4 linked regions of the Homo sapiens genome follow. The protein of the gene in region 2 purifies or fractionates together with the protein of the main gene of each other region. This does not show direct contact. Each region holds a gene or a part of one and is shown on either strand. Other genes may lie near its edges.

Region 1 (7,844 bases), on a different chromosome or scaffold from region 2:
CTCACTGCAAGCTCCGCCTCCCGGGTTCACGCCATTCTCCTGCCTCAGCCTCCCGAGTAGCTGGGATACAGGGGCCCGCCACCACGCCCGGCTAATTTTTTGTATTTTTAGTAGAGACGGGGTTTCACCGTGTTAGCCAGGATGGTCTCGATCTCCTGACCTCGTGATCCGCCTGCCTCGGCCTCCCAAAGTTCTGGGATTACAGGCGTGAGCCACCGTGCCCAGCCGAAAGCAGTACGTTTTCAAAACGGCAGTAATGTACAAGGATTGTGTTCCATTTGATCAAATGTGCTATATTCAAAATAGCCCTAAGCTTAGCAAATGATATCTTCAGAGTGCAACATATGTGCACAGAAATCACATTTGTGTACTTTAATCAGTAGTCTCAATTATATGCCTAATTGCTGCATGTTTGCATTCAAGGTGATGATCCTGCAGGAAGTGCAGGAGAGACCCCCGGGTGGCTTTCGAGAGAACAGGTTTTTGTACTGATATCGGCAGCTTCGGTGAACTTAGGTTCCATGATGTGCTATTCTATACTTGGACCGTTTTTCCCCAAAGAGGTAAGACATTTTTAAATCCTTAGGACCTCTGTTTTTTTGTTTGTTTGTTTTTTAAAAGCCTTTTGAATTATTTTATTTTATAGTATATAAAATGTAAAAATCTGCATATAGGACAGATGGTGTATAGAACTCCAGCCAATAGAATACTTCTTATAGAATGCCTGATACCAGGAAAAAAAATCCAGTCAAAAAGAACATCTTCTTGGGAGGTAATTCACCTAAAAGTAGTTGATCTTCTGAGAATTACTTTTCTTACCATGTAGTCTGATTAATCTTTATTTGGTTTCTGCAACTGAAACAAAGGAGTGCACTGAATAACTGAGATTCAAATGTTACTGCAATAGGTCTGTGTTAAGACAGTAACTATTTTCTCGAGGTTTTATTCACATTTTAGAATTAGGACGTTTTGATTCCCGACCCCCCTTCCTTTTTTTTTTTTTTTTTTTTTTCCTTTCGAGACAGGGTTTCGCTCTTGTTGCCCAGGCTGGAGTGCAATGTTGTGATCTTGGCTCACTGCAACCTCTGCCTCCCGGGTTCAATTGATTCTCCTGCCTCAGCCTCCCGAGTAGCTGGGATTACAGGCGCCTACCACCACGTCCGGGTAATTTTTTTTTTTTTTTTTTTTTTGAGATGGAGTCTCGCACTCTCGCCCAGGCTGGAGTGCAGTGGCGCGATCTCGGCTCACTGCAAGCTCCGCCTCCTGAGTTCACGCCATTCTCCTGCCTCAGCCTCCCAAGTAGCTGGGACTACAGGTACCCGCCACTACGCCCAGCTAATTTTTTTTTTTGTATTGTTTTAGTAGAGACGGGGTTTCACCGTGTTAGCCAGGATGGTCTCCATCTCCTGACCTCATGATCTGCCCGCCTCCGCCTCCCGAAGTGCTGGGATTACAGGCGTGAGTCACCGTGCCCGGCCGAATTTTTGTATTTTTAGTAGAGACAGGTTTTTGCCATGTTGGGCAGTCTGGCTTCGATCTCCTGACCTCAGGTGATCTGCTTACCTTGGCCTCCCAAAGTGCTGGGATAACAGGCGTGAGCCACCACGCCCAGCCCCGGCCCCGCTCCATATTCCCTCTTTTGACTTTAATTTCTTATGGACTCTAGCGCCAATGTTTATGCAAGGGAGGAATTCTGATTAATAGGGCCTATTCCTTCTAGGCATAGCCTTTTATATGGTGTTAAGATTTATAGCTAATGACACAGATTCAAAGATAATAATCCCTAGAAAGTCCAACTGGATTCTAGACGTCAATAGGATATAGTATGAAATGAATATGACTGGCTTGGAGTGTAGACAACATATCCATGTGTTTTATTTTGTGCTTTTTGCCAAATCCTTGGCTCACAGTGCAGTGGAAGCTTGTTAGTCCTCCAACTGCCTTTTAAACATGTAGTCCTTCGTTCTGTGTGTTACAAAAGAAGATAAAGTGGCTTCTCTGCTAAAGGAACAATATTGCCATGTACCCATACAGTGCTCTCTGGCTTCTAGTACACATTACCCCTTATTTATCCATTTAATCCCCGCAACAACCTCATACAGAATCTTGAGAATCTCAGCATGTTGCAAATGAAGAAACGGTCTCAGAAGTTGTGACTTGCCCAATTCAGTTCTATTAACTAGAGGTTTAATGAGTCCCTTCTCTAGAGCAGGCTAAGCATGGGATGTGTTAGGGTAGTATAAAAAAATCAGGGAAATGGCTTTCTCTTGTCTGCCCTTTGGGAGTGAAAAAATATGGGAAAAAAAAGGTTCCAATAATTTGGATATCCCTTAAGAAAAGGATGTCCAGAATGTTATAAGACTGTTTTTTTTTTTCTTTTTTTAAATCATTTTCTTCTGGCTTCCCTCTATCCATACTAATGTTATGAGAGCCTAGAAAGAAGAATGGTTAATTCTGCCATACATGGAGTGTGGATAGCAGAAGAAAGGGCGTTACTGAAAGGAACTTTCAGGCTAAATCTAAGTTGGGGCTTTTTTTTTGAGACAGGGTTTCACTCTGTCATCGAGGCTGAAAGTACAGTGGCATGATCAGAGTTCACTGCTGCCTCAACTTCCCAGGCTCAAGAGATCCTTTCGCCTCAGCCCCCTGAGGAGCTGGGGCACAGGCATGTGCCACCACGCCTAGCTATTTTTTTCTATTTTTAGTAGAGATGGGGTTTCACCATGTTGCCCAGGCTGATGTTGAGCTCCTGAGCTCAAGCAATCCGTCCACCATGTTGGCCAGGCCTCTCAAATGCTGGGATTACAGGTGTGAGCCACCGCACCTGGCCTAAGGTGGGCCCTAAGAAGTGTTAATTCTTATGGTGAACAACAGAGATGGAGGTGTTCTAGGTATAGTCACAGGAAGAGCAGAGTGAATGGCATGTTCCTGGGGAACAACAGACAGCTTCTTGATGTGGCTTGAGCCTGGGGTGAAGTGAGGTCTAATAGGAGACAGTGGATCTGAGGAGGCAGGCCTAAGATAGAAAGGAAGGGCACTTGTCAAGGACTTAGTCAGTGGGCAGTCATCAGAGGTGTTTGAGCAAGAAAGAGCAGTCTGGCCAGACTTGGGATTTTTAAATAATAATAATAACAATAATAATGCCAGGCATGGTGGCTCACGCCTGTAATCCCAGCACTTTGGGAGGCTGAGGTGGGAGGATCACCTGAGGTCAGGAGTTTGAGACCAGCCTGGCCAACATGGTGAAACCCTGTCTGTACTAAAAATACAAAAATTAGCCAGGCATGGTGGCACGTGACTGTAGTCCCAGCTACTCAGGAGGCTGAGACAGGAGAATTGCTTGAACCCAGGAGGTGGAGGTTGCAGTGAGCCGAGATCGCCCCACTGCACTCTAGCCTGGGCAACAGAGTGAGACTCCATCTCAAAAAAAAAAAAAATTAAAAAAAAAATAATAAGAGCCTGTGGAATTGAGATGGAGAAGAATTGGAGTGAGTGAATCAACCAGTGAGAAGGGCATTTCCTAGCTCAGCTGGAACTCAGTGAGTGCAACTAATGTTAGTTTCCTCTAAGTGAATAGGGACAAAGGAAAACCATGCTGTGGGTGTGTGCTTTTTAAGTTTTTGATTGAGTTTTGTGCTTATAGGAAATGATGACCAAAGAAAAAAGTCAAGCTTTTAAAGAATTAAAGTTCATTTTATTCAGAAGTCTTACCGAGGACTATAGGCTGAGTATTTCAGTTCACAGTTCATGTACAGGTAGTAGAGACTCAGTACATGCACGGTCACATCAAAGTTTGGGTGTAAGAGTACATCTGGTTATAGATTATGAATGTACCTTTGGTAATAGTTTATAAACGCATAATCACAACCCTGTTAGATGTTATCTTATGTGTAGGAAAAGGCAAAGCTGGGGCATTTATCATTTAAGGAATGTAATAGCTCAGGCAAGAGATGTGGGGGACCATGTGCTCTATCCTGCTCTGTCTTCAACTCATCCCTCCCAAGAGTTGCATGTTGTCACAGAGTCAGGGGTTTTATGACATTATGCTGGCAAGCAGAAGTGAGCAAAATGTGACTTCTTACATTTGCTACTTTTGTCTCGCCTCGCAGAGGGAAGGCTGAAAGAAAGGAGATAGAGGCAGGAGAGAGAACATTCTAACTTTAAAAGCTGTAAATATGAAGAGAAGGCTTTGATTTTTCATTTCTGATTAAAATCTTGTGGTCAACAAATGCATTGGTGAAGCCTCACCCTTCCTCCTGCATGTTCTGTCATTTTTCTTATTAGCTAAGCTAACTGGGCAAAGGAAAAACAGTGCCTTTCTTAAATTATGGTGTGGGATTCCTACTTCTATTCATCATTTTTCTTGCCACACTCATCTTTTGTCAGAGGACCAGAAATTGCTTATTTATTTATTTATTTATTGAGACAGAGCCTCGTTCCATCATGCCCAGGCTGGAGTGCTGCGGCATCGTCTCAGCTTACTGCAACCTCCGCCTCCTGAGTTCAAACAATTCTCCCGCCTCAGTCTCCCAAGTAGCTGGGATTACAGGCGCGCATCACCACACCCAGCTAATTTTTTTGTATTTTTAGTAGAGACGGGGTTTCACCATATTGGCCAGGCTGGTCTCGAACTCCTGACCTCAGGTGATCCACTCGCCTTGGCCTCCTAAATTGCTGGAATTACAGGAGTGAGCCACTGTGCCCGGCCTAGAAATTGCTTTTAATAGCTGTTTTTGCTTTCCTAATGTGAAGCAGGATCCATGTTCCAAAAATGACATTCGGCTGCTGCTGTAGCATGTGGTTCTAGCACATCCTGTGTCAGCATTCCATTTCCACAGCGAATATGGGAACATGCACATGATGGAAACTGTAGTGGCTCATGACCTGTAACCTTTGCAAGTTCCTGTCCTCATCTATAAATGAGGCCAGCTAAAAATGTATCCTTTATTTAATTTAATTGTTGTTAGATACCATGTAAAACGGCACTTAATAAAGAGATTCTGGCTCATAATGAGGGTCTAATAAGTATTAATTGCTATAGGCATTATATATTTTCTGCTAGATTCTAAATTAAATACTTATCAGAACTATTAAGCAAAGAACATTGATAATGCAACTTGACTAATGAATGTCCTTCCTTCCTTCCTTCTTTCCTTCTTTCTCTTTCTTTCCTTCTTTTCTTTCTTTCCCTTCCTTCCTTCCTTCCTTCCTTCCTTCCTTCCTTCCTTCCTTCCTTCCTTCCTTCCTTCCTTCCTTTCTTCCTTTCTTTCTTTCTTTCTTTCTTTCTTTCTTTCTTTCTTTCTTTCTTTCTTTCTTTCTGACAGTGTCTTGCTCTGTCACCCAGGCTGGAGTGCAGTAGCACAATCTTGGCTCACTGCAACCTCTGACTCCTGGGTTCAAGTGATTGTCCTGCCTCAGTCTCCTGAGTAGCTGGGATTACAGGCACGTGCCACCACACCTGGCTAATTTTTGTATTTTTAGTAGAGACGGGGTTTTGCCATGTTGGCCAGGCTGGTCTCAAACTCCTGACCTCAAGTGATCCTCCCACCTGAGCTTCCTAAAGTGCTGGGATTACAGGCGTGAGCCCCCATGCCCGGCACGCATATTTTTCTTATGCGTTAATTGACTCCTTTCACAATACTTTCTTTTTGAGGAACCTGACCCGTGTGTAGTAGAAATGTAGACCTCATGTTCCAGTTGACATACAGCATAACCATTTGTCACAGTGCCATTAAAGGTATTTTAATGAACTCTCTCTTGTATCCACACCATTATTTCCTGTGGTTATTAGTACATGGAAAGGGAATGGCTGGTTATGAAGCCCAAGAATTATGGGCTTAAATCGTGCCCAAGCCATTACCATGGAGCTGTGGGCCCATCCTCTCTGCCCTCACCCACCACCAAGTGCTTAGGGACATTTCTGAGGACTTTTCCTAGAGTAAGAGAGAGATCCTTCCTAAAATTTAGCTTAGAACAATAGAGTTCACTTCTCTGGCTTCCTGTGGTATGACGCTATGAGGAATGTATGGTTTATTTAAAGAAGCATAGTCTGACATGCAAAAAAAAAATCCTTGAAAAAGACAAAGATTGAATGATGATAGTATCTTTACATGGGAAGGGATGGAGAAAATTTTTATCATCAATTGTAGAGAGAAAAGATAAAGAAAGGCAATCATGGTTATAGAGAATGGATGTTGAAGAGTGCAAAAGTATGTGCGCATGTGTGCATTTCTGTATTATGAAGTTATTTGCGAAAATCCAAAGCTCTGCCAAAAGGATGGATCTAAACTGGACTCTTCTGACCATAAATATTCACTGCTGGTACAATGCCTCATATATATAAGACGGTCAATATATGACAGTTCGGGCTTTCCTTTTGTAGTATGCTAAGTTGCCAGTCCTATCTTAAAGAAATTAAACTCATATTTTGATTCCTTAAATTTCTATAGCTAGAACCTGATTTAAGGATTTGCAATAGTTCCGGGACTTGACAAAGTTTTTTAAACTTTCTATTTTTATATGTGAATGTAGTTGTGTATCACAGTAGCATTTGAAGTTCAAAAGAAGTAGATTTATGATAAATATTATCTGTAGCAAATTTTAGGAGCTCCCTGATAGAATAGGCTATAAACATTAGTAACTGTAATTGATGGATGATAAACTACCTTGGCTGTTTCAGGAGAACGTAGAATGTCAGGGGAGCATCTCTCACCTGTGTTGTTGATGACAGGATGGAAAACTGTCTTCTCCAAACTGTCAGGTAATTGGTATTACTGTCAGAAACAGAGACCTAGACTGATTGGGCCTTGGTCTGACCCATGTGCCCACTCATGGAACTTCCTATTCTTGAGTTTGAAGACTGGCCAGTGTTTTTTGTTTGTTTCCTATAAATGTGATACCCAAAAGGAAGTGTGTCTGAATCAGCTGTTTCCTCAGTCCTGTGACTATGCAATAGAGCCCAAATTTCCTTATCCAAGGCATTTTTTTTGTGTTTGTTTATACACTCTGATTCTGACTTTTGCCACATAAAGCTAACAATTCTTTATAGGTATGGTGAGTGAATTATTTTCATGTAAGAGACTATGGTTTACTATCTAAACTATTAATAGTTTCCCTTCCTTCCCCACCCCATTTATTTTAAAAGAATAATCTTTTTGAAACTGATATACAGATAAAGTTCACAAGAAGATGATGCCCTGATCTATTATTTCCATTTTTTCATATTGATCTAATTTTTCTTTGAAACTTTGTTTCCGTTTCTATTACTTAAAGGCTGAAAAGAAGGGAGCCAGCAATACAATTATCGGTATGATCTTTGGATGTTTTGCTTTGTTCGAGTTGCTGGCATCCTTGGTATTTGGAAACTATGTAAGTATAAAGTTCATATGCACATCTTAATTTTTAAAAATTATATGATGGATTATTTTCGTTTACTAGTCTAGAATTTGCATTGATACAGAAATAGCCATCGTTATAGTTTTATAAATTGTGCCAGTGTTGACAGTTCTCTCCTCAGAGTTGATTGATTTTTAACTCTTTCCATGTTTTTAAGCAATGAGTACTGTCACCATATTAAAGAATTATTATAATATATTAACTGTACATGTCTTCCCCTATCCTATATTTGCCAATACAGTGGATTTGTTTATATCAATATAGACTTTCGGAAGTCATAAATTTACCACTCTTCTTTGACATTTATTATAGCTTGTACATATTGGAGCAAAATTTATGTTTGTAGCAGGAATGTTTGTCTCAGGAGGAGTTACAATTCTCTTTGGGTAAGTCATTTTCTGATTATATTTGGGAGCTTGAACAGATTTTGTAATGTATCTTCTGTTTAA
Region 2 (7,844 bases):
TTTCAACAATTTCAAACAATGAAGTTTGAAAGATGCATTATTTACAAATTATAGGAATTCTGAAGTATACACCCCCAATAGGATTATCATTGCCATCCTAACCTTTTTTTTTTTTTTTTTTTTTGAGACAGAGTCTCACTCTGTCATCCAGGCTGGAGTGCAGTGGCATGATCTAGGCTCACTGCAAGCTCCACATACTGGGTTCACACCATTCTCCTGCCTCAGCCTCCTGAGTAGCTGGGTCTACAGGCACCCGCCACCACACCTGGCTAATTTTTTGTATTTTTAGTAGAGACAGGGTTTCACTGTGTTAGCCAGGATGGTCTCAATCTCCTGACCTCGTGATATGACCACCTCGGCCTCCCAAACTGCGGGGATTACAGGTGTGAGCCATCGCGCCCAGCCACATCCTAACCTTTTAATCTTTGTCCAGAATCTAAATTCCATGACGTAGGAACTATGGCTTACTCATCTTTGTACCCTCCATTGAGCCTAAAGTGGTGCCTTGCAAATTTTGGTTTCCAAGACATGTTTGTGTGAGATTTTCACTATTCATGTAACCTCTACGCCAGGGCCACCATGGGTGGAGATTAAGTTGTGTCTTGCCCAAGAGCACCAGGCCGAAGTGCCAGTTGGAGATTAAAACCAAATTCATATTCTCTGGCTCAGCTGTGTGTCTGTGGAGCCATATCCATGCAGCAGAAAGGGTATTTTATTCCAATTCGCACAAAGGTGATACATAGGCTAATATTGGCCCTAATACATACTCCTTTCTTGAGCTCATTTTTTATAAATTTTTGCCTTTTTATTCCTTTTCTGTTTGTCATTTCATGAACATCTACTTAATATCTATACATTATATTATAATGTAAGGAGTTATTTAAAACAATGTAAGAAATTATGATTAAAAATATATGGTAAATTCTTTCCTGAAAAGGAAATATTATTGAACTATATTACTAATTTCTTATAATTTAAAAATCGTAGAAGTGAAGACACATTTACATCTCCAATAAATTACCTATTTTAAGTGCAGTAAAATATATTATCTCCATATAGGCTACTGTTTTCCAGCAAAGAGGGGAAATTAAGATTTGAAGTGTATTATGCAATACAAATAAGGTTAATGATGTAAAGAATTAACTAGTTTTTCTTTTCTTTTTTTTTTTTTTTTTGAGACAGAGTCTTGCTCTGTCACCCAGGCTGGAGTGCAGTGGCGCGATCTTGGCTCACTGCAACCTCTGTCTTCCGGCTTCAAGCAATTCTTCTGCCTCAGACTCCCGAGTAGCTAGGACTACAGTTGTGCACCACCATGCCTGGCTCAATTTTGTATTTTTAGTAGAGACGGGGTTTCGCCATGTTGGCCAGGCTGGTCTTGAATTCCTGACTAAGGTGATCCTCCCGCCTCAGCCTCCCAAAGTGCTGGGATTACAGGCACGAGCCACCGCACCTGGCCAGAATTAACTAACTTGATAAAAACTATTTTATATAGTATATTATTACCATATAATACATATATAATATTGTATTAATACTATATAATACTGTATATTACACTGTGTGTATATATGTATATGTGTGTGTGTATATATATATACACACACAGTGTACATATATATGTACTATATCATTAGCTTGATATATATATATATATGTGTGTGTATATATATATAAAGCTAATATTATATATATACCAAGCTAATAGTTTGGTAGCTTTTCAGACATAACATATTTCAATGGAGTTTTTTTTTCCATAGGTAACTTTACCTTGCTTGAAACACCCTTCCAAACGCTCCCTCTCCGATGTCTCTCACATATTCAATGTTATTCCTTGGATACTCCAGGCTGAGCAATTTGGGGTTCAGAAGGAGCGGCATCCTCTGGTACATGGGGTTGGGATGAAGTCTATCTAGTAAGAGCTCAGAAGGCAGTGTGGTGAGGGTTACTGCTGCTGATTCTCTGCAGGCAAGACAGGCAAGATCAGGAATGAGCTCAGAAGCAGGTTAGATCTTTGTACTTAGACTTAGATTCTAAGAAATATGGCATTTAAGAGTAATGAAAACAAGTTATACTAAGGCAGCCAAAGATCCTTCGTTTTGAGAGCAATAAAATATTTTGTTTGGTCTAGAGTCAAAAGGCACATTTTCTCAGAAATGTTTAGCTCTCCAAGCCAGCAATGGCAACAGGCCTGAGGAGAAGACAAGGAGCAGGAATAGCCATTTTCCTCCAAATTATTGTTTAGATTTTACCTTTTGTGAAACAGTAACCCTAGGGCATTTGATTTGATCCCATGCCAAAAAGTCATTGACATTTGTAAAGATCATGATGGGGGTGCTTAATTTTAAAGCAGGGCTACGGATATATTTAGAGAGTTGCAGTGTCATATATATTCCTCACGTCATACCAACTCCATAAAACACAAGGCTTTAAAATATTACTACACATGGTTAGCTGAAACTAGAATCTCACCTTTTCTTATTTTTCCATTGTTTTCTTCTTCGGCAGCAATAGAGAGTAGTTATGGTAAGAAGCACAAATATTGCAAAGCTGGACATGATGGAGATTATTACAGTCATGGAGTATGTAGGTGAGACAGAGAAGGAAGAAGAGGAGGAGGAAGGCAGATTTGGAATGTCCACACTTGGCTTTGAGGACGTCATTGGTGGGAATGCTGTAAGTAAAGAATAATTATTTCATTCATTCTCAAACCTTTAAGAAGCAATTTTTTGTATTTAAGCAATCAGTAAAATAAATTTCATGATAATAATATATTTATGTATCAGGTTCTCCCTGGTTATATATTTATAAAGTTCAGTAAGGTCTAGTTGTAAGTAAATCCAGCTTATAGAATAATAGAATTTTAAAGATGAGACTCAGAGAGAGGAAATAGGTTTTTTTTTTCTGAGATAAATGTAGATCTTGGGCTGGTGCCATTTATACTGAATCATATTATCTATGACCTGACATAAATCATGGAAATTATCAAATAAAATATTTTCACATAATTACACTTGACATCAGGATTGTCTAGAGCTGAGCTTTTATATACATTTACTGTCAGTTTACAAACAGAAGAAAAATCATGAAAGAAGATGAAAAATGAAAATATTAGGAGACAAATGAGAAGTTAATTCATCTAAAAACTGAACTCCTGTCAAACTTCAATTTAAAAGGCCGATGTGATATGTATAAAGTAAAATCAGCATTACTGTTGGAAACCAAAAGATGCCATACTCATACCACTATTTGTAGAGTACAAAGTCCATTGTATATGTATTAAAAGAACCTTATTAATCACATTTAAATCCTCTTAACAGATTGAGTAAAGACAAAAACAGGGATACAGAGTATTTTAAAATAATCAGCAACAATGTTTTAATAGCTAAGAATGACCTTTGTACCCAAAAATAGAGAATAAACCTTCCTTTCAAATATTTGTGGATTAATCTCAATAAATTTTAAAGGCAGAAATTATGCATATCTACTTAATGGCCAAAGTGCAATTAATAATAGATTAAATAAAATCCAATGGGACATTTTTAAAAAGAAAAAAATCAATGACTTTTTGATCAAAAACTAGAGAGTAACTATAGTTATAGATTAGACACAAGCCTCTTAATAGTGTGTATTTTATTTAGCCAAAGTTGTGCTCAAAGATAAAGTCATAGTGTTATCTCCTTCCACTAGATAAAAAAGAATGAAAGTAAATGAACTGAACATTTAACCCAAGACTTTGGGTAAGAAACAATAACTACAGAAAACAAAAGATAATAGGTAATAAAGTAACAGCCATACACAAGCAGAAGTTAATAAGTTAGAATACACGTAACACAAATGATAGAATTAAAAGATCAATAGTTGGTTTTATAAATATTCATATAGTAGTCTAATCAATGGAATTTTAATTAAAGAGAAAAGGTACAAACAGAAAATTAGAAATGATAAAAAAGTTATAACAGATTCAAAGTTAATTAAAATAATGTGTAATTATTATATTTCACACCTTAAGGAAAATGATAGGAACATATTAATCCCCAAATTTGAAGCATTAGAAAATATAAATATTACCATAGGCAGGAAACTAGATTTTTAAGTCATCACATTATAAAAGACATTCTTTTAGTCTTGAAAGAGATAAAATTTCCATATTTATAATATGTTCCAGTAAGAGAAAATTCTTTCAAATTATTTTAGAAATTATTATAATACCAATATCACAACCTGGCAATGTTAGCACAGAAGAAAAGAGCATACATAGATTATACAACCTAAGTTTAGAAGATCCTAAACGAAATATTAGCAACTGACTACATCATAGTCAGAGAATAATGATTTAATAGAAGGGGACATATTAATATAACATATTACAAAGTCAAAATAAAACCTTTATGGCAGTAGATGCCTAAAGCATTTGAAATAGGGCACTTGCAAAATTGGAGGCTACAAGAGACGCTCATGTATGACTTCTTAGTCATACATGAAGTGGACCCAGTGATTATGCCCTGAGTACCAATGGCTAAGCAAGTGATTCTGAAGCCTGCGGATGCCAGGCCTGGTCACCACTGTGACTCAGGCAGGCACCTGGAACTGGAAGAACATCAGCACAGCAATAAAACATCTGCGCAAGATCAGTGACAGCATGCCTCATCCGGCACCACAGGAGTGGTGGACTCAACAGACTGACCAGGTTCCTCTCTGACTGACTTGAAAGCTAGTCTGATTCTCTTTGGACTGAGTCATCCCAAGTTTTCTCGATCTAAGATGGGTGGGTGGTGGTGGTAGGGGGTGGCTTAAATTGACGAGCTTTGCTTTCTGCTAATAATAAAGTTGGAACAATTATTAAAAGATAGGGAGAAATAACTATTTTTGTATTTGGAGTTTACAGAGCATCTCACACCATATATAACATGTGAGGGAATATAATGTAATTAGTAAAGTTGGTAGTGTAATTTCACTGGTAAATATAAGGTTAGTTTTTCTAAAAAGAATCAGAAAGTAGAATTTACTGTCATGTTAAAAGAAAAATCTATGATGATTTAGTGAGTTTTTTTAAAATGCAAGAAATGACATAGTTGGAACAATAATTTTGCTTTATGGATTTAAATGTTTCTTTCCTTCAAGATAGTTTTGTTTTGTTATTCCTTGATGACTGCTTCTGATTTGATCTGATCTTCCCTTGAACTACATCAATGATCTCTTTGGGTCTAAAGGATCACTTTGAATCGTCATTCTTTTTCCTTTTTATCTTTTCTCTCACCAATTTTCTGTCTTGATTCTTTTCCTCTGAACACTACGGGAGTTTATACACTCATTCATCCATATGTAAATGCATTCACTAAATCAATAGTGACTGTTAGGTATCCAGAACACTGTGGTGAACATGAGAAGTCTTTGCTTGTCATGAGACACAAGTGAATAAATGGAGAAATAAAACAAAATATAAGAAGCATTATAGGAGTAGTAAGAACACGATGCTTGTGAGTCTCGTTCAGGGCTGGCACTAACTCAGGTTTAGACATACTGAGAAGGTTTTCTAGAGTGAGTAACTGTAAGTTAAACATAAATGGTGAGTAGCCAGTAACCAGTTGAAGGTTATGATGATCTGAGTCTTTGTGTCTTTCCCCCACATTCATGTGTTGAAATGAATAAGGGTAGAGTCCTGATAAATGGAATTAATGCCCTTATAAAAGAGGTCCAAGAAAGCTCCCTCGCCCGTTCTGCCATGTGAGGACACAGGGAGAAGACAGCTATGTCTATGAGGAATGGGTCCTCACCAGATACCAAATCTGCTGGCACCTTGATCTTGGACTTCTTGGACTCCAGAACTGTGAGAAATAAATTTCTGTGTATAAGCCACCCAGTCTGTGGCATTTTGTTATAGCAACCTGAACAGACTAAGGAAAAGGTGTGGGCTGGGAGCAGTAGCTCACGCCTGTAATCCCAGCACTTTGGGAGGCTAAGGCGGGTGAATCACGAGGTCAGGAGATCGAGACCATCCTGGCTAACACGGTGAATCCCCATCTCTACTAAAAATACAAAAAATTAGCTGGGCATGGTGGTGGGCGCCTGTAGTCCCAGCTACTCGGGAGGCTGAGGCAAGAGGATGGCGTGAACCCGGGAGGCGGAGCTTGCAGTGAACCAAGATTGTGCCACTGCACTCCAGCCTGGGCGACAGAGTGAGACTCCGTCTCAAACAAAACAAAACAAAACAAAACAAAACAAAACAAAAAAACACACACAAACGTGTGTGTGGGATGGGGGAATTAAGAGAGTAGAATGGAGTCAGGGTAGAGAGATAGTATTCTATAAAGAAGTAATAGCATATACCAAGATCTGAACTAAGCAGATGTGATGCCTTTCTAAAAGTGCACCTAGAAGTTTCATTGTTGGAGTTGGGGAGTATCTATAGGTAAAGCTGCAGATATCAGGTTTAGTGATAAAAGTCCTTGTATACCAATTTAAGTAATTTGGACTATGCCCTGCAGCAAATGGAGGGTCTTATAGGAGTGTTTTACGAGGTGGAATAGCATGATCAACTTTTTGCATTAGAAAGGTCTGTCTACCATCCTGATTTCAATGGGATAAAGATTCCCATCATAGCTTATCTCAAGCTCCCAACATGAAGCCCTATCATGGAGTTGGAAAGAGATGTTCAATAGCACATGATTAAACAATTTTTATCATACAGATATCACGGATAAAGGGAAAAATCAAAAAGTTTCTGCCTAGATAGAAAGAATAAATTACTTACAGGAAAAAAATAAATTCACACCAGACTACCTGCTTCCAACACTAGAAGCTAGAAAAGAGTGAAATCACATCTATAAACCACCCAAAGAAATGTCACTCAGGAGTTCCATACCCAGTTAATACACTTTTCAACTACCCAAATAAAAGAAAACAATTTGATAACACACAAGGCTTCAGGGATTCTGTCTCCCAAGACACTTTCCCTTCTAAGGAAATACATGAGGAGACTCTTAATAACAATTGAATCAGAAAATAACTTCAGGATACATGTGAAGGGGCTGTGATGGGTGGAGTCTTGGCTAATTCGCTAGGTAAGACTCAATATTGAGAATCACTCTGCAAAGAGAAACCTAAGAGTACCAGGGGAGGTAAGGAAGAAGATCCAAGCAGTCTGAGGATCTCCTGGAGATTCTGAAAGTCCCATGGGGTGGGCAGAAATGAAGAATAAATAGAGCACTGCGATGTGTAGAAAGAATTGGTGTCTGACTTTCACTTAGCAGTGGAGAAAACATAACCAGTAACAAGTAAAGAAAAAGAAAAAGAAGAAGCAAAAACGTAAAGCGAATAGAAAATATACAGTTAAGATAGTAGGGATAAAATAGAGTATATCAGTTGTGATATAAAATATGAACAGGCTAAATCCTCCTATTAATAGAAAATGGCTATCTGATTGGAGTAAACCCAGGTATATGTTGTTTATAAGAAAAGAAAAATAAAAGAGGAACAAAGAGGTGCTAGGTTAACATAAATACAAGGAAAAAATTACCATTATTAATACTAGAAATTTAAAGCTAAAAGCACTAAAACAAGACAAGAGTGACATTTTACATTGGTAAAGAGCTTCATATAAAAAGAAAAGTGTCTTGGATCACTATGCCTCATAGAACATAGTAACTAAACATGTAAAGTACAAATTATTATAAATGCTAGAAGAATGTAATAAAAATAATTATGAATTGGATTGGTCTAGTAGAAAATTTATTAGAAAATCAAGGAAATCAGTAAACCCATATGTGTATAGAAGGGCTATTAATGTCATGAAATTATTAGACAGCTAGCATGAGTTTAATCTATACTCATAAAAGAACAAGGCC
Region 3 (8,608 bases), on a different chromosome or scaffold from region 2:
TTCTGTTTTTTCAAATGAATTAGGGAAGTGATTTGAATCATAAAATAACAAAAACAAATTGACTGCCCAAGAGAAAGAAAATGAGCAAGAATATAAAATTTCTTTGTAATTCTAAATGTTCTGTAGTGGTTTCAGTTAGATAATAAATTCATTTATATCAGGAAACCGCCCCCCAACTCAGATAGATGGATGTTTGTGCTGTGCACCAGAGTTAGGACATCAGCCTTGTAGAACAACATGGTGTTGAAATTAGGATGCCTCGTTGTGGTTCTGTAGAATGTTGATGTCTCTGAGTATGGATCTCCATTTGACACAAAATTTTACAAAGTTTGTGGCTGGCATCTCTTTCTGGGCCTTACGCTCTATTTCTTCCATGCCCCAGTCTCTAACTCTGTGCTTGGTCTTTCCTCACAGACTGAATCACTTTGGAACATATCAACAGATCATTTAAAGGTACAAAATGAATATTTGTATGCAATTTTTAAAAAGACAGCCAGTTGTGATCAAACTCCTTACCATCAGTAGGACACACATGAGAGTTCTGAGAATAAGAGGAAGAGAGTTCACATATGAGAGGGCAGAACCAAGCTCAGTGGTGTAGGAGTTCTTGGGAACAGGGGGAGTGCTGCAGATGTTAGACAGAGAACCTAAATCCTTCACTGCCAATGGCCATTCCAGAGATGGCCTTTGAATTGGAGGCAGAAGTGGGACAGAACCTTTATTCAATGTCACATTTTATAATGGACCAATGTGACAACCTCCCAAGTGATGCCAAGGCATAGCACATACTCCGAGAGCTAGCTTCCTATAAAAAGGAGTAAGAGGCCGGGTGCGGTGACTCACGCCTGTAATTCCAGCACTTCGGGAGGCCGAGGCAGGCAGATCACGAGGTCAGGAGATCGAGACCATCCTGACTAACATAGTGAAACCTCGTCTCTACTAAAAATACAAAAAAAATTAGCCAGGCGTGGTGGCGGGCACCTGTAGTCCCAGTTACTCGGGAGGCTGAGGCAGGAGAATGGCATGGACCCGGGAGGCGGAGGTTGCAGTGAGCCGAAATCGCACCACTGCACTCCAGCCTGGGCGACAGAGCGAGACTCCACCTCAAAAAAAAAAAGAAAAAAAAAAAGGAATAAGAAGAGGATGTAGGAAGATCCTCACAAATATGTGCTTGCCTCATCAACACAACAATTCCTCACTCTCACTCCCCAAATACTCAGGACCAAGCTGCCTTGGGGCCTTTAATGGTCTTTGTGAGGTAGAAGCAAGTGCTGGCTGGAAGCCTTCAGAGATTCATTTAAAATTCATCCCCCAAAAAATACTCAAAAGAAAAAAGGACAACCGGTTCTGGAAAAGTATTTCAGTCTTACACCCATATATGATTTAAAATATCTAAGGGTATATTGAGTACATGGTGGACAACAAATTTTAACAGATGGGATACCAAGAAAAAGGCACAGAGAAGCCCATGTTTTGCTTGTACTCTCGAAGCTTCGCTCGAACTCTCATGACATTAACAGAATCTGCTTATAGCAACCAACTCTCCTTCATGGCCAGCATTTTAACACACAATTTCAGCTGGTAATATCACTGTCAGGAATGTAATTCATTTTGCTTTTTGGGTTTATTTGGAGGGACATTTTGGAGATGAAGGCGGCGGTGATTTAGTGGTGCTGAGGAATGGCACTGAGCCTGCGATCCTCACAAACTCAAGTTGGTTTTTTTTAGGAAACATAGGCCTGGCTCTAAATGAAAATGAAAATGTTGAAATAAATTAAACCTGGTGCATGGATTCTCAATCCTTCCACAAAAAAATGGGGGAGGGGAAAGTAAGGGCATTTTACAAATTGGGAGCCCTATTCCCAAGAAAGGGAGTGATATGGCATGGCCATGTCGGAATCACCTGCGGTTCTTTGTCAAAATACCTGTGTTCTGGTTTCCCCCGCCACCTCCAATCAGGTTTTGACTCTGGGTCTGAGGTGAACCCAGGCATCATTTTCTAAAGCCCCCACTGGTGATTCTGATGTGAAAACAGAGTACCACTTCTGTGTTTGAGGGACAGCTAATTCTTTGGCTGGATCTACTTCTGAAAGAATGAATTGGAAGATCTAGCTAGAGGACTCTTTCCGTTATTGCAGAGAGAAATGAATGGCATGGGGACAGGGAGTAGAGAGAGGAGGGGTTCATGGATGGGCCTCAAGCAATCTTACCTTTGGGGGAGTCAGACCACTTTGAGGGTCTGATTAATGTGTAGTTACTCTCCTCAGAAAAGTACACATAAGCTAATTCCCACAAAATTGAGCATATACTTTCAAGGGAGTCTAGACTAAGATTCAGTTTTTGCTTTTGCTATTTTAATTGAATGGATAACAGTCCCACTCATTAAAATAAGGAAAACAAGAGAAGGCAAGATCCCTGGTCTCAGGAAGCTTACAGTCTAGTAGCCAGGAGAAAACAGTAACAAGAAATCAACATACAGAAAAAAAAAAAGAATCAATATACACATAGTAGACAATAATCACAAGAATTGTGGGGAAGGGAGAGTTCTGGAACCGAACGTTAATTGCAGAATTTGAATATGCTGAATTGGAGAAGATTCTTAGAAACACCTGGTTGGGCCGGGCGCGGTGGTTCACGCCTGTAATCCCAGCAGTTTGGGAGGCTGAGGCAGGCGGATCACTTGAGGCCAGGAGTTTTGAGACCAGCCTGGCCAACGTGGTGAAACCCCGCCTCTACTGAAAATACAAAAATTAATCGGGCATGGTGGCGGGCGCCTGTAATCCCAGCTACTCAGGAGGCTGAGGCGAGAGAATCGCTTGAACCCGAGAGGCAGAGGTTACAGTGAGCCGACATTGCGGCACTGCACTCCAGCCTGAGCGACAGAGCAAGACTCCGTCTCAAAAAAAAAAAAAAAAAGAAAGAAAAGAAAAGAAAAGAAAAAGAAAAAGAAAAAGAAAAAGAAAAAAAGGGAATGCCTGCTTGTGTAGAGACAGCAGTTTAAAGGAGACAGGTGTGCTACGGAAGCCCCCAAAAGAATAGAGGGCAGACTGACAAAGGCCGGTTGATAGAGAGCCACCTGTTGGAGGCCAGAGAGGTTGTGTTTGGAACCCAGGCTCATGATGAGCCTAAGATAAAAATGGCATTGATCCATGCTGCTGCTAGAGGTCACTGACATGGTGCCATGGGGTCCCATGGTAGGTTGGGGGTCCGGGATGGGGGAAGCTGTCAAAACGCTGATGAACACAGTTTATGACGGACTCAGACGAGACCCAGGGAGGAAAGCTGCAAGCTGGCGCTGGGAGGTCGGCCTTGGTGTCTGCTGTTCATTGCCAGGGTCCGAAGTTGGCTCTGTGTTTGTTCAATAGGATGGAAAAAAAAAAACCAAAAACCGCGGGACAGCGCTGAGTGGAGGAGAACTACATTCAGTCAATGGGCATGAAAATGAATTTTAGCTGCTTTGTGCAAAAACCCTAGGTGTGCGGACGAAAGAGAGCCAGGCAGAAGGTTACAACAGGTCAGGAATAAATAACCACCAGGCGGAGGATCCAAGATTCTGTCCTTCCTTTTGTTGGATGAGGAGCGCCAGGCAAACGCGTCCACAAAGGCTTCGGAAGGAAGCGGCTCGCCCGCCCACACCCGGCTCCTGCCCCGGGTGACTATTAGGGGCCCCGGGGGGGTGGCAGAAGCCCGAGACCCAGGGGATCAACTCTCCCCGAAGGCCTAGCAGCGGGGACCCCAGAATAAGTCGGGGGCGGGCCCCGGCGCGGCAGGAGGGGGCCGGGCGGGCGGGTGAGCAGATCCCACCCCTTCCTGAAGGAAGCGCCCTACCCGCCGCTACTGCTGCCGCCGCCGCCACCGCAGCAGGTCACAGCCCCTCGAGGCGACAGCGGCCCCGCCGCACCAGAGCAGGTAGGCGCGGCGCCCCCTCCCCTGCCTGGGCCCGTCGCGCAGCCAGGGGGCGTCCGGCCCGGCCCCGTGCGCAGCCCGCAGGCGGAGACCGGGGACGGCGGGGGCTGCAGCGCGGCTGGGGCGGCTGGGTCCGCCCGGCTGCGGGGCCCTGCTCGGCTGCGGCCCCCTCCCATAGCGTCCCGGGCGCGGGGCCGCCCGCCCGAGCCCTCCGCGGGCGCACGCTCCCCGGCAAGTCCAGGAGTCGGTGCCGGCTCTGCCCCGCGACCTGCGAACGCCCGAGCCGGCGCGCCTCGGTCCCCGCCGCCGCAGTGCCGCCAGCCAGCCCGCCCGCTGCGGCCCCGGCCCCGGCCCCGGCCCCGTCCTTTGACAGGTGTCCCCACCCGCCGCCCCATCATCTCGTTATCGGGTGGACTCGGGTGAGAAGCGACCCCAAGTTTGACCTCCCGGTCCCTGTGCCATTCTCCCTGCACTTTGCGGTTAGCCAGGTCAGGCTGGCTCGGGAAGCAGGGGATCTGGGAAGGAGGCACTAACTTGCTTTGCCCTGTGTACCGCCCTCCACTCTAAATGCACAGTCTTCCTTCCTTTCCTGGGCGCACACTTGGGAAGAAATGGGATTTTTGGTTTTTCGGCGGGAGGCCGTGGTAGGTGGGTTACCTAGGCTCTTTGGTAATCTGCTGCAATAAAAAAGTGATTAGCTTTGGGTTCTGGAGAGAGTCCTTGAGTGGTTTTCCCCTCCTTAAATGAATCAAATGGAGTATGAGAGGGTTTTCCCATTTTAAATTCATGCTCCTTTTTTCTCTACTCATTCCTTTCCTCCACCCCTACCCCCACAGCACTTTATGATGTCCCACACATTTCACTGATCTTTTTGGTCAGGTTTATTCCGGCCAGACCGCCTTTCACGGTTGGGCCAGGATTGTGACCGCATGTGGGAACATAGCTCAGGTAGAATGGAAGTCCATCTTCCCGAGTGAACCCACTCCGATGTCCTACATGCGAGGTCCTGTTGGGGAACCAGATATACCAATGCCATGTTGAAAAACAAAACCAAACAGTTATTGGATCTAAAACAATAACAAAGCCTAAATGGCAGGATCAGTTTCTGCATCTTTCTCTGCTTGAACCAAAGACATTTTAATAGTGCAGGGCTATAACTCCATTCTGGGCAGCAGTTCATCGAAAGGATAGTTGAGTGTGGATTTATAAACTCCATGGTAGCAGTCATTAAACTGACCTACTTAAAGTTTCCTATTTCAAGGAAAAATTGTTAGGCCCATATATGTGACCGATCAAAGAATTTTAGTCTCAGCTCTCATGTATCAAATCCCAAACTTTTTCTTGTATGTGTTCTAGAGACTCCATGTTTCCAGGATTAACTATAGCTGTCATCTATTAATGAGCTAGAAATGTGAGTTTAATCTTCAAGGCATAAGCGTAGGAATTTTAATGGTGTGTCCTTTATACATTATTTAATAAATGTTTTGCAAGTCCCCCAAGTTGGAAGCTCACAAACTGGACATGGTAAATAAAAGGGTAAAGAAGTTTTGCTAACAATAATGACTAGTTGATAGATGTTATGACATTCACAAATATATTAAAGTATTTGAAAAACACTTTAATGCATGTTTATTATAATCTGCCATTAGCTGAATGCAATCTGTTTGGATTATTTAAATTGGCATTTAAGTCTTCAGAGCAATTGCTTAATTCATGCATTTCTTACAAATACCTTTTCCATGTTGCTTTGTGGGGGGATAATTTGCTCTATGGAGTAATTTTTTTTTTTGCGTGAACACAATAATGCGTTCTATTTAGCCTTTGTTGTAGAACTACCACAATCATGTTCACAATGACCTTGCAGGGGTTTTTGGGCTCACTTTATCTGCTTTGCAATTGTCAAGAGAGAAGGCCCTTTGCTTTACACTCTTGTCTGTCTTCCTGCTTTGTCTCGCCTGTGACCCACACCTCTTTAGTACAGTGGGTCAGATTAGCAGGGCAGCCTGGAGTCATGAGAGAGGAAAAGCTAGCTGGACCCCGCAATCTCAGCCATTTGGTTTCACTGCAATCTGGCCATTTGGGATCAGTTCAGTAACCAATTAAGCAAGACAAGCACTGACAAGATAATGTATTACTTCTCAGTCATCCCCTTTCACAGAAGAATCTGTAACACTTAGAATCAGCACTACGGTGTGATTAGGTTCTGGTAAGGGTCCAATGAGATGTGTGCTGAAGTTCCCAAAACATTATAGGGTCCAAGTGTTATTGAATCCAGGTCTAAGTTCATGAAAAGCGTAGGACTAGACACAGGTGTGTAATAAGTGTGTCCCTACTTTTTTTGTTTGTTTGTTTTTGAGGCGGAGTCTCACTCTCTCGCCCAGGCTGGAGTGCAGTGGCACAATCTCAGCTCACTGCAACCTCCGCCTCTTGGGTTCAAGCGATTCTCCTGCCTCAGTCTCCCAAGTAGCTGGGATTACAGGCGTCCACCAGCATGCCTGGCTAATTTTTTTTTTTTTTTGTATTTTTAGTAGAGACGGGGTTTTACCATGTTGATCAGGCTGGTCTTGAATTCTTGACCTCAATTGAGCCACCCGCCTCGGCCTCCCAAAGTGCTGGGAATACAGCCAGGAGCCACTGTGCCCAGCCCCTGTCACATGGGTCCGTGTGAAGAGAGTCCACCAACAGGCTTTGTGTGAGCAACAAGGCTGTTTATTTCACCTGGGTGCATGTGGGCTGAGTCCGAAAAAGGAGTCAGCAAAGGGTGGTGGGATTATCATTAGTTTTTGTAGGTTTTGGGATAGGCGGTGGAGTTAGGAGCAATGTTTTGCAGGCAGGGGGTGGATCTCACAAAGTACATTCTCAAGGGTGGGGAGAATTAACAAAGAACATTTTTAGGGGTGGGGAAATTACAAAGAACCTTCTTAAGGGTGGGGGAGATTACAAAGTACATTGATCAGTTAGGGTGGGGAAGAAACAAATCACAATGATGGAATGTCATCAGTTAAGGCTATTTTCACTTTTGTGGATCTTCAGTTGCTTCAGGCCATCTGGATGTATACGTGCAGGTCACAGGGGATATGATGGCTTAGCTTGGGCTCAGAAGCCTGACAGCCCCTACTTATTTTAACTATAAATTTTTACTCCTGGAGCTGATGGTGCCATGTAGCTTTATATTTTTTCATAGTTGTTCTAAGTATTTTAAAACTTGTTCATAAATTATTGGAACTTTAAGTTATTGTTATCACCAAATATCATTTCCTGGTATGTTTAGATTTTTTTTTTTTTCTGGTATGTTTAGATTTTGAAAGACAACTTGTGGCAATGGAAAATCAATCATCATGCAAAGAGATTTTAGATCAGCCATTTAGAATATTTTGAGATAATCGTGAAATCTTTGGCAGTAGCCTTCAAATTCAGCCCCAAACTATTCTGAGTCAAACCAGCTTTGGTAGGTAGGGCTTGAAGCTCTTTTACTAAGTGAGAAATTAATATTTTCCTTTTTGGCATCTATAAACAGCCTTTTCTAGATCAGTGCTGTCCAAAAGAACTTTCTGCATTGATGGACATGTTCTGTAATCTGTCCAGTATGATAACCATGAGCCACATGTGGCTATTGAACGCTTGAAATGTGGGCTAGTGTAATTGAGGAACTGAATTTTAAATTTTATTTAGCCGTAATTAATTTAAATAGCCACATGAGGCTAGTGGCTACCATATTGGACAGTATAGTTCTGAATTTTCTCCCCATATTTCCTAGAGAGATAGCATTTAAAGGCAATTATCCTTTAATTAGAAAAAAAAAAGTGGCAATTGGCATTGATAATACCAGAATTGAGATTTGACTTCATAATCCTATTGCTATGAAAAACCACTTGTGAGGCCACGTGCAGTGTCTCACGCTTGTAATCCCAGCACTTCGGGAGGCTGAGGCGGGTGGATCATGAAGTCAGGAGTTTGAGACCAGCCCGGCCAATACAGTGAAACCCTGTGTCCACTAAAAATACAAAAAAAAATTAGCTGCGCATGGTGGCAGGTACCTGTAATCCCAGGGAGGGTGAGACAGGAGAATCGCTTGGTCCCGGGAGAGGCAGAGGTTGCAGTGAGCCAAGATCGTGCCACTGCACTCCAGCCTGGGCGACAGAGCTAGACTCCATATCAAAAAAAAAAAAAAAAAGAAAAAGAAAAGAAAAACCACTTGTACTTGCTCTGAAGAAGATATTTTGTGCTGAAGTTCAACCCTACTCTAAAAACTGTTTCTCTTTTTAATTTCTATGTGTCTGCTAGCCTCAATAATAAGCATCACCCAGAGTTGTTTAGATGCCTGGCCCCTCGTGTCGGTGTTCATGAACTTGGGCTTATTTGCTCTTTTGCACATTACAGATCATGTATTCTTAGAGTCAGTTTCTGTACGTTTCAATTTTTCAAGGGAGAGGAGGTTCAGAGAAAGGTAGGAAGTAGGTAGTGATGCACAACTCTCGCACTCTTCCCTTGATTACAATCACAGAGACCCTGTGAAAAGTCTGACAAATGGGTACCCCTGGCTCCAGGAGCAGCTGAAGCCTCTGCCTCTGTTGGTTTCTGCCCTTCTTGTCTGGTTTCTTTCTCTTAGGTTTCAAACCCAGATCCTCTTGCTCAAGTCTAGCCTGTGGAGATTACCAAATCCACTTAAGGTGTAACCTACCATTATTTTTAGTAAAGCCAT
Region 4 (7,844 bases), about 32 Mb from region 2:
TGCTGTGCTCACACTCGCCGCCCATGATCTCTGGCTTTCTTAATGGGATCTGAGGAGGCAAGGCCAGCAGAAAGCTCACCCACTTTTAGGGGCTGCCTGGAGCCAGCACCCATAACTTGGCTCTATGAAGCCTAAACAAGAGGCAGACAACTCAGAAGCAAGCAAGCTGTCCTGAAGACTGAAGACATCCCTGGGATAGGAGGTCCTGCCTCCCCTCCCACCCAGCCCTCTGCAGAGCACTGATGTCTAGCCCCTGTGACTCTACTTAACACAAGATAGGAGGTCCTGCCTCCCCTCCCACCCAGCCCTCTGCAGAGCACTGATGTCTAGCCCCTGTGGCTCTACTTAACACAGGATAAGAGGTCCTGCCTCCCCTCCCACCCAGCCCTCTGCAGAGCACTGATGTCTAGCCCCTGTGACTCTACTTAACACAGGATAGGAGGTCCTGCCTCCCCTCCCACCCAGCCCTCTGCAGAGCACTGATGTCTAGCCCCTGTGGCTCTACTTAACACAGGACCCTCGTGGCTTCCAGTTCTTTATTAACTCATGTTTCAACTCCCATACCGTCTAAAATCTTGAAAACACAAGGGCTCTAAAACGCTTACACAGCTTATAGAGTGGTCTCAATTCTTCCCACTACCAGTGTGACATTTTTAAGACTTATGCCTTCATTTCTAAAATGCCACCTGCAAACACACAGGATAGGGTTCCTAACTCTGCCTATTAAATGATTAAATAAATCGAGGTATGTCCATTCTACAGGACACCATATATATTTTAAAACAAAAAAGGGCCAGGTGTGGTGGCTCATGCCTGTAATCCCAACACTTTGGACGGCCAGTGTGGGAGGACAGCTTGAGGCCAGGAGTTTGAGACCAGCCTGGACAACATATTGAGACCCTGTCGCCATAAATTTTTTTTTTAATGTAGCCAGGCATGGTGGCACTTGCCTGTAGTCCTAGCTACTTAGGAGGCTGAGGTGGGAGGATCACTTGAGCCTACGAGTTTGCGGTTTCTGAGAGCTATCATCACACTGCTGCACTCCAGCCTGCACAACAGAGCAAGACCCTGTCTCTAACAAAAATAAAATTTAAAAGTAAAAAATAAAAATAGGCATTTGAGCTGACATAGCAGAATGCCCATGGTATATTGTGGAGTGGAAAAATAGAATTCACAGAACAATTTGTATGGTAAAGTTCAAGTTCCATTTGCATGATTAAATATATGACTCTGTATATTTGCATATGCCCAGTTAAGAGTCTGTTAGGATACAAAGCAAGCAGTGAACAGTGGCTACCCTGGTGACTCTGCCCACCTGCAAGTCTTTGCTAAGAGTATGTTACTGTTTGTTTCTTTGTTTCTTTGTTTGTTTTTTGAGGCAGAGTTTTGCTGTCACCCCGGCTGGAGTGCAGTGGCACGATCTCAGCTCACTGCAACTTCCGCCTCCCAGGTTCAAGTGATCTCCCGCCTCAGCTTCCAGAGTAGCTGGGATTACAGGTGCACGCCACTACGCCCGGGTAATTTTTGTATTTTTAGTAGAGACAGGGTTTCACCATGTTGGCCAGGCTGGTCTCGAACTCCTGACCTCAGGTGATCTGCCCGCCTTGGCCTCCTGAAGTGCTGGGATTACAGGCGTGAGCCACCACACCCAGCCTAAGAGTATATCACTGTTATAAATTTTTTAAAGCAATACAAAATAGTCCCTGTGCACCAGGGCTTAGAAAAGGACACCAGAAAGTCCCCTGGAAAACTCTCCCTGGCTGTTCTAAGACTCCAGCTCTGCAGATGAGGTTCTGAAGTTGATGTTATGGCACAGTTTTCTCAGGAATCGGTGAATGTAGCCACTGAGTTGAGCACTTTTCCCAGAGGAAAGCTCCCAAAACTGGCTCCACTACACACCCCTCTGTGAATTCCAGGATTCCAGGCATCCCCATCCCACTGGGAGAAGGTAGTCTGGGACCAGTGAAGCCTTCCAAACAGGCCCACAAACTTAATTTGCATGCTCCCATTCTTTTATTTATTTATTATTATTATTATTTTTGAGATGGAGTTTTGCTCTTATTGCCCAGGCTGGAGTGCAATGGCACAATCTTGGCTCACTGCAACTTCTGCCCCCTGGATTCAAGTGATTCTCCTGCTTCAGCCTCCCGAGTAGCTTGGATTACAGGCATGTGCCACCATGCCTGGCTAATTTTTGTATTTTTAGTAGAGACGGGGTTTGTCCATGTTGGTCAGGGTGGTCTCGAACTCCCGACCTCAGGTGATCCACCTGCCTCGACCTCCCAAAGTGCTGGGATTACAGACATGAGCCACTGCGCCTGGCCTGTTCTCATTCTTTTAACAGGTGGCCTAAGATTAATGGTCTATTTGTTTTGTATTTTTATTAGTTACTTCACCTCATACTGCAGCTAAAACAAACGTATGCTTGTGTATTCAGTTAGTCATGGTAAGTAAAAAATATTTTGTGCAGTCAGAAGGGAAGTTTAGGGATCTTTTTCTCTATGCACTAATTGGGGTTAGTGTGTTCTACTGAAGGGTTAAAGAGAACAGCAGTGTGTTCTTTATTCCACTCTAGTTCATCACTCAGGGCTACGGAGCAACGATTTGAAGGCAGTTTTATCCAGCACAATTAAATCAAAGTTCCCAGGGCCTATGGTCATTAGACTCTGTGGGGAAAAAAAAAAAAAGGCGTCTTTTCAAAAGTGAGGCCTTTTCAAGAACTCTACTATGTGATACAAAGTTCTGAAGGGCTCCAGGTACCCCATCAGCCTCACATCACGGACTGGGGAGGGGATTTTGCACACATCTTGATGTCTCCATTTGCAGCTTGTTCTCATTGGGTGAGCAATGATTTTCTAACCTTGCATGGTTTTTGTTTTGTTTTTGTTTTTGTTTTTGTTTTTGTTTTCAGACAGTCTCACTCTGTCACCCAGGCTGGAGTGCACTGGCGTGATTTCGGCTCACTGCAACCTCTGCCTCCCAGGTTCAAGGGATTCTCCTGCCTCAGCCTCCTGAGTAGCTGGGACTACAGGCACCCGCCACCATGCCTGGCTAATTCTTGTATTTTTAGTAGAGACGGGGTTTCACCATGTTGGTCTGGCTGGTCTCGATTTCCTGACCTTGTGATCCACTCGCCTCGGCCTCCCAAAGTGCTGGGATTACAGGTGTGAGCCACCGCACCCGGCCGTGTTCATTCCTTTTTAAAAAAATGCTCTTCAAGGTAACCCTTGAAGAAGGTACCAGAGAGTGACTGTCTGCCCTGCCCCAAGCTGTACCCTGATCGCAACTTGCTGGCCTACAGGCTGTGGGACAGTTCAGGAACAGCACTCTTTCCCTGCCCCCTCCCACCTTCTCACTTCTGAAATGGGTGATGGTCTTGGGCTCCTCTGAAAGCCTCCTCTAGCTGCAAGGCAGGCCCTGGCCCCATCTCCAAACAGGTAAGGACAGCCTCCTGTACCTCTACCTGCCATGTGCAGCCTGACATCTCGGCCCCTTCCCCCGGAGGCCAGCACTTGAGGTCCCCAGCTGCACCCTCACCGCTCAGCCTGCCCAGTTCTTGTGTCCCAGTTGGCCAGTGACCACTGGTGCTTCCCCAGAGGTAAGACAGGCGAGTGGGAGGTAAGACTCAGCCCCACTCCCATCCCTACCATGCATTTTAGAAACATTTCAACCAAGGTAAAAGACAGTAGGGTTTAGAGGTGACCAGGAGAGTGCATCCCAGAACACTCCCCTGAGGAAAGTGGGAGACACAATGTGAGGAGCTGCTGCTCTGCATCGTGTGACCAAGCAGAAACCCAGCAGAATTTTCACCAGAATTCTAACATTGAAAAAAATTCCGGCGGTGGCTCACGCCTGTAATCCCAACACTCTGGGAGGCCGAGGCAGGTGGATCACCTGAGGTCAGGAGTTTGAGAGCAGCCTGGCCAACATGGTGGAACCCCGTCTCTACTAAAAATACGAAAAGTAGCCAGGCATGGTGGCAGGCGTCTGTACTCCCAGCTACTCGGGAGGCTGAGACAGAATTGCTTGAACCCGGGAGGCGGAGGTTGCAGCGAGCTGAGATCACGCCACTGCACTCCAGCCTGGGCAACAGAGCAAGATTCTGTCAAAAAAAAAAAAAATTCTTTCCTTTCCATAGTAAATTATGTAGAAGACATTTTCCCTAAGCAGCACCTGGAGGAGGGGAAGCTCTGACAAAATCCTGGCCCAGATGGAACCACTAACTGCACCAGCCTGAGCCCCCTCTTTCCTACGCTCCTTTAAGAGAACTTCCACCAAGACAAGAAAATCCTGTTGAGAGAAGAGCTGGACTCCAACAGTGAACTATTCTCCTAAGGCAGAATCCTGCAAACACACGCAAATCCACACTCATCCTTTTGCTGGTGAAGAGAGAGCACTAATGGCAGAATGTACATACCCAGGATCTAGAGTCAGATGGCCTGGGTTCACACCCCAGCCAGGCCACTTCCTAAAATATGACCTCGGCTTCCTCACTTGCAAAATGGGAATCATGATCATAACACTGGCTACCTACTAGGGTAGTTGGGAGGATTAAACGGTCATACACATAAAGCATCACCATTCTGCATCATAGTGGCCCTAGAAAGATAAATCTACAAACTCCAGCTCTTCCCTTGTGTCTGCTCCTGCTGAGGCTCTGAGAACTCACAATAACAATAACAACATAGCAGCTAATATTTATCAATCACCAAGTGCCAGGTACTCAGTGCAAAATTTAAAATTTTTATATATATACACAGATTTATTTATATGTATGTTAATCTTCACAGCAACCCAGTGAAAGGGGTACTATTATTACTTCTAGAACCTACCACACAGACATGTTAAGTGACTTGCCTAAGGTCACACAGCTAGTAAATACTAGACTCTCTTAGGCAATTGTAAATCTTAAGAGCCATGAAGATTTTCTCAAAATACCCAAGTTTGGGAGTTATAGGATCCTGAGGCAGGGCAACCCTGCTCTTCCTGAAGTGCTGCAACGCAGCCCCCAGTCAGCGAATGAGAGCCAGGCTAAAAGGACCCCTTCAGATTAGGCTAAAATACAGAAAGATGTTGGCCGGTTGTGGTGGCTCATGCCTGTAATCCCAACGCTTTAGAAGGCCAAAGCCGGCGGATAACCTGAGGTCAGGAGTTCAAGAGCAGCCTGACCAACATGGTGAAACTCCATCTCTACTAAAAATACAAAAATTAGCTGGGCGTAGTGGCACGCACCTGTAATCCCAGCTACTCGGGAGGCTGAGGCAGGAGAATCGCTTGAACCTGGGAGGTGGAGGTTGCAGTGAGCCGAGATCATGCCACTGCACTCCAGGCTGGCAACAGAGCGAGACTCCGTCTCAAAAAACAACAACAACAAAACCCAGAAAGGTATTTAAGCCAGTATGTTCTGTCAGGCAGCCAGCTTCCCGCAGGCCCGACAGAGAAAGAAATGAAGGCAGGGGAGGCCCAGCTTTTGAAAGTTCTTCTCCAAAGCTGCACTGGCTGTTTGAGATGCAGGCCACAGCACCTCATGTATAGAGAGCTTTTGGGTTAATGGTGAACCACCGGATCCTGGATTACCAAGACCAAACAAAAAACAACATCCCCAGAAAAGAACAAGAGGAAAAGCTGATCAAATGGTAAAGAGATGGTGCAGAGGGAGAGGTGAGCTGGGCAGAGAATCTGATAGGATATCTGGGGCATTTGATCACCGGCTCCTGGAAACATGCTTTACTTTATTTTACTTATTATTTGTTTGTTTGTTTGCTTATTTATTTATTTATTTTGAGATGGAGTCTCCCTCTGTCACCCAGGCTGGAGTGCAATGGTGCCATCTCGGCTCACTGCAATCTCCACCTCCCCGGTTCAAGAGATTCTCCTGCCTCAGCCTCCTTAGTAGCTGGGATTATAGGCATGTGCCACCACGCCTGGATAATTTTGTATTTTTGGTAAAGACAGGGTTTCACCATGTTGGTCAGGCTAGTCTCTAGCTCCTGACCTCAAGTGGTCCATCCACCTCAGCCTCCCAAATTGCTAAGATTACAGGTGTGAGCCACCGCGCCCAGGCTTACATGTTTTATTTTAAAATGTAACCTCCGCTTTGATGAAAAATAGTGAGACCCCTCCCTGGGTCCACAAGACTGACTCCCAGAGTTACCTGAAACATGGAGGCGTGTTGTACAAGGAGCTGTTTCCAGCCTGCACCTTGTATTCCAGGACCGAGGGGCACTCTCGGAGGGCAAACCCCAGCAGGTCATCACGGACAATCACCACGGTGACCCCAGCAGAGCCAACATTCTTCTGGGCACCAGCAAAAATCACACCAAACTTAAAAAGAGAAAGACATGCTGCTTAAGAAGGATTTGGCCATTTTTCATACATGTATGCAAACTTCCCAACTCTTCCCGAAGCACAATTTTTTTAAGGAAATGACTCTATCCTGTGTAGGGAGCAGTTCATGCTCTAAAGCAATCTCCATGTGGACAGCAAACCCATACTCAGAGTTCCAAAGCCTGAGGATGATCCGTCAGCCTGGTCCTCACCTGGATGGGGCTAACCCAAGCCCATCACTGCAAAGTCCTGGCACATATTCACATTCGCTCTGCACACCTCCTTTCTACCCCCAAAGTAGAAAGGAGTCTTTAACGTGGGGCCTCTAACTCTCCCTGGTTACCAAGAGAAGAAACATTTTTTTTTTCTTTTGAGACGGAGTCTTGCTCTGGCACCCAGGCTGGAGTGCAGTGGCGCAATCTCGGCTCACTGCAACCTCTGCCTCCCGGGTTCAAGCAATTTTCCTGCCTCAGCCTGCCGAGTAGCTGGGATTACAGCGTGTGCCACCATGCCCAGTGAATTTTTGTATTTTTAGTAAAGACGGGGTTTCACCATGTTGGCCAGGCTGGTCTTGAACTCCTGATCTCATGATCCACCCTCCTCGGCCTCCCAAAGTGCTGGGATTACAGGCCTGAGCCACTGCGCCTGGCCAAAACAGATTTTTTAATCTATTTACATTTGTATAAAAGAACAGTCAGAAGGTGCTGAGAAAGGGACTGTTATGACAAAGAGAAGGGATGGGACAAGCTGCCTGAGGGAGAAGAAATTATAGAAAACAGAGGCTTAAAGGTACTTTAGGTAATTCTGTTGTGCAAGATACAGAACCCTCTCCCATGCCTCTCTCCATGAAACCCTTAGGAAAATTGAGCGTTGGCAGGAAGTTGGGGGTGGGGGAAAGTAATTTATAGTTATTTAAAATTGCCAGTGCCTGGTGATAATAAAAAGCAGACCATAAACCAAATACAGTATATCTAAACAATTATTATTCAGCCTTTAAAAAGAAAGGAAGCTCTGACACACAGTACAACATGGACGAACCTTGAAGACATTCTGCTAAGTGCAATAGAACCTTGAAGACATTCTGCTAAGTGCAATAAGCCAGACACAAAAGGACAAATAGTACATGATTCACTTCTAGGAGATACCTAGAGTAGTCAAATTCACAGAGACAGAAACTAGAATGGAGGCTGCCAGGGGCTGGACGGTGGGGAGAGAGGGAGTTAGTGTTTAATGTACAGATTTCATCTGAGAAGATGTAAAAGTTCTGGAGATGGATGGTGGTGATGCCTGCACAACAATGTGAATGCTCTCAATGCCACTGACCAGTATATTTAAAAATGGTTAAAATGGTATATTTTATATTAAATGGTAAAATTTGTTATATTTTATCCCAATTAAAAAGGCAGAATACCACTCAGTCAGTTCAACTGTTGTTCTTAGATTCTCTACCCGCATCGCACCCTGGGGCATGTACCTACAGCGCCAGTCCCACTGCCCTGCCTTGGCAAGCCACTCAT

The links.
Region 1: the proteins of MUSK (region 2) and SLC18B1 fractionate together in Homo sapiens (co-fractionation; one large-scale study listed by BioGRID). This does not show direct contact.
Region 3: the proteins of MUSK (region 2) and TMEM150C fractionate together in Homo sapiens (co-fractionation; one large-scale study listed by BioGRID). This does not show direct contact.
Region 4: the proteins of MUSK (region 2) and PSAT1 fractionate together in Homo sapiens (co-fractionation; one large-scale study listed by BioGRID). This does not show direct contact.

What each region holds. Positions count from the first base shown.
Region 1 is NC_000006.12:132,789,701-132,797,544, reverse strand, and holds part of SLC18B1 (MFS-type transporter SLC18B1), read left to right. Parts: intron 1-423; coding exon 424-563; intron 564-6,679; exon of another isoform or gene 6,680-6,760; intron 6,761-7,272; coding exon 7,273-7,368; intron 7,369-7,707; coding exon 7,708-7,781; intron 7,782-7,844. UniProt on the Homo sapiens protein: Proton-coupled polyamine antiporter involved in the translocation of polyamines from cytosol into secretory vesicles prior to their release via exocytosis.
Region 2 is NC_000009.12:110,779,642-110,787,485, reverse strand, and holds part of MUSK (muscle, skeletal receptor tyrosine-protein kinase isoform 1 precursor), read right to left. Parts: intron 2,674-7,844; exon of another isoform or gene 2,672-2,673; coding exon 2,470-2,671; intron 1,960-2,469; coding exon 1,768-1,959; intron 1-1,767.
Region 3 is NC_000004.12:82,557,207-82,565,814, reverse strand, and holds the start of TMEM150C (transmembrane protein 150C), read left to right. Parts: upstream 1-3,826; 5' UTR 3,827-3,909; intron 3,910-8,608. UniProt on the Homo sapiens protein: Nonselective cationic channel with high permeability to Ca(2+). Component of a mechanosensitive cation channel, confers mechanically activated (MA) currents with slow inactivation kinetics. May contribute to proprioception.
Region 4 is NC_000009.12:78,306,894-78,314,737, reverse strand, and holds part of PSAT1 (phosphoserine aminotransferase), read right to left. Parts: intron 6,325-7,844; coding exon 6,155-6,324; intron 1-6,154. UniProt on the Homo sapiens protein: Involved in L-serine biosynthesis via the phosphorylated pathway, a three-step pathway converting the glycolytic intermediate 3-phospho-D-glycerate into L-serine.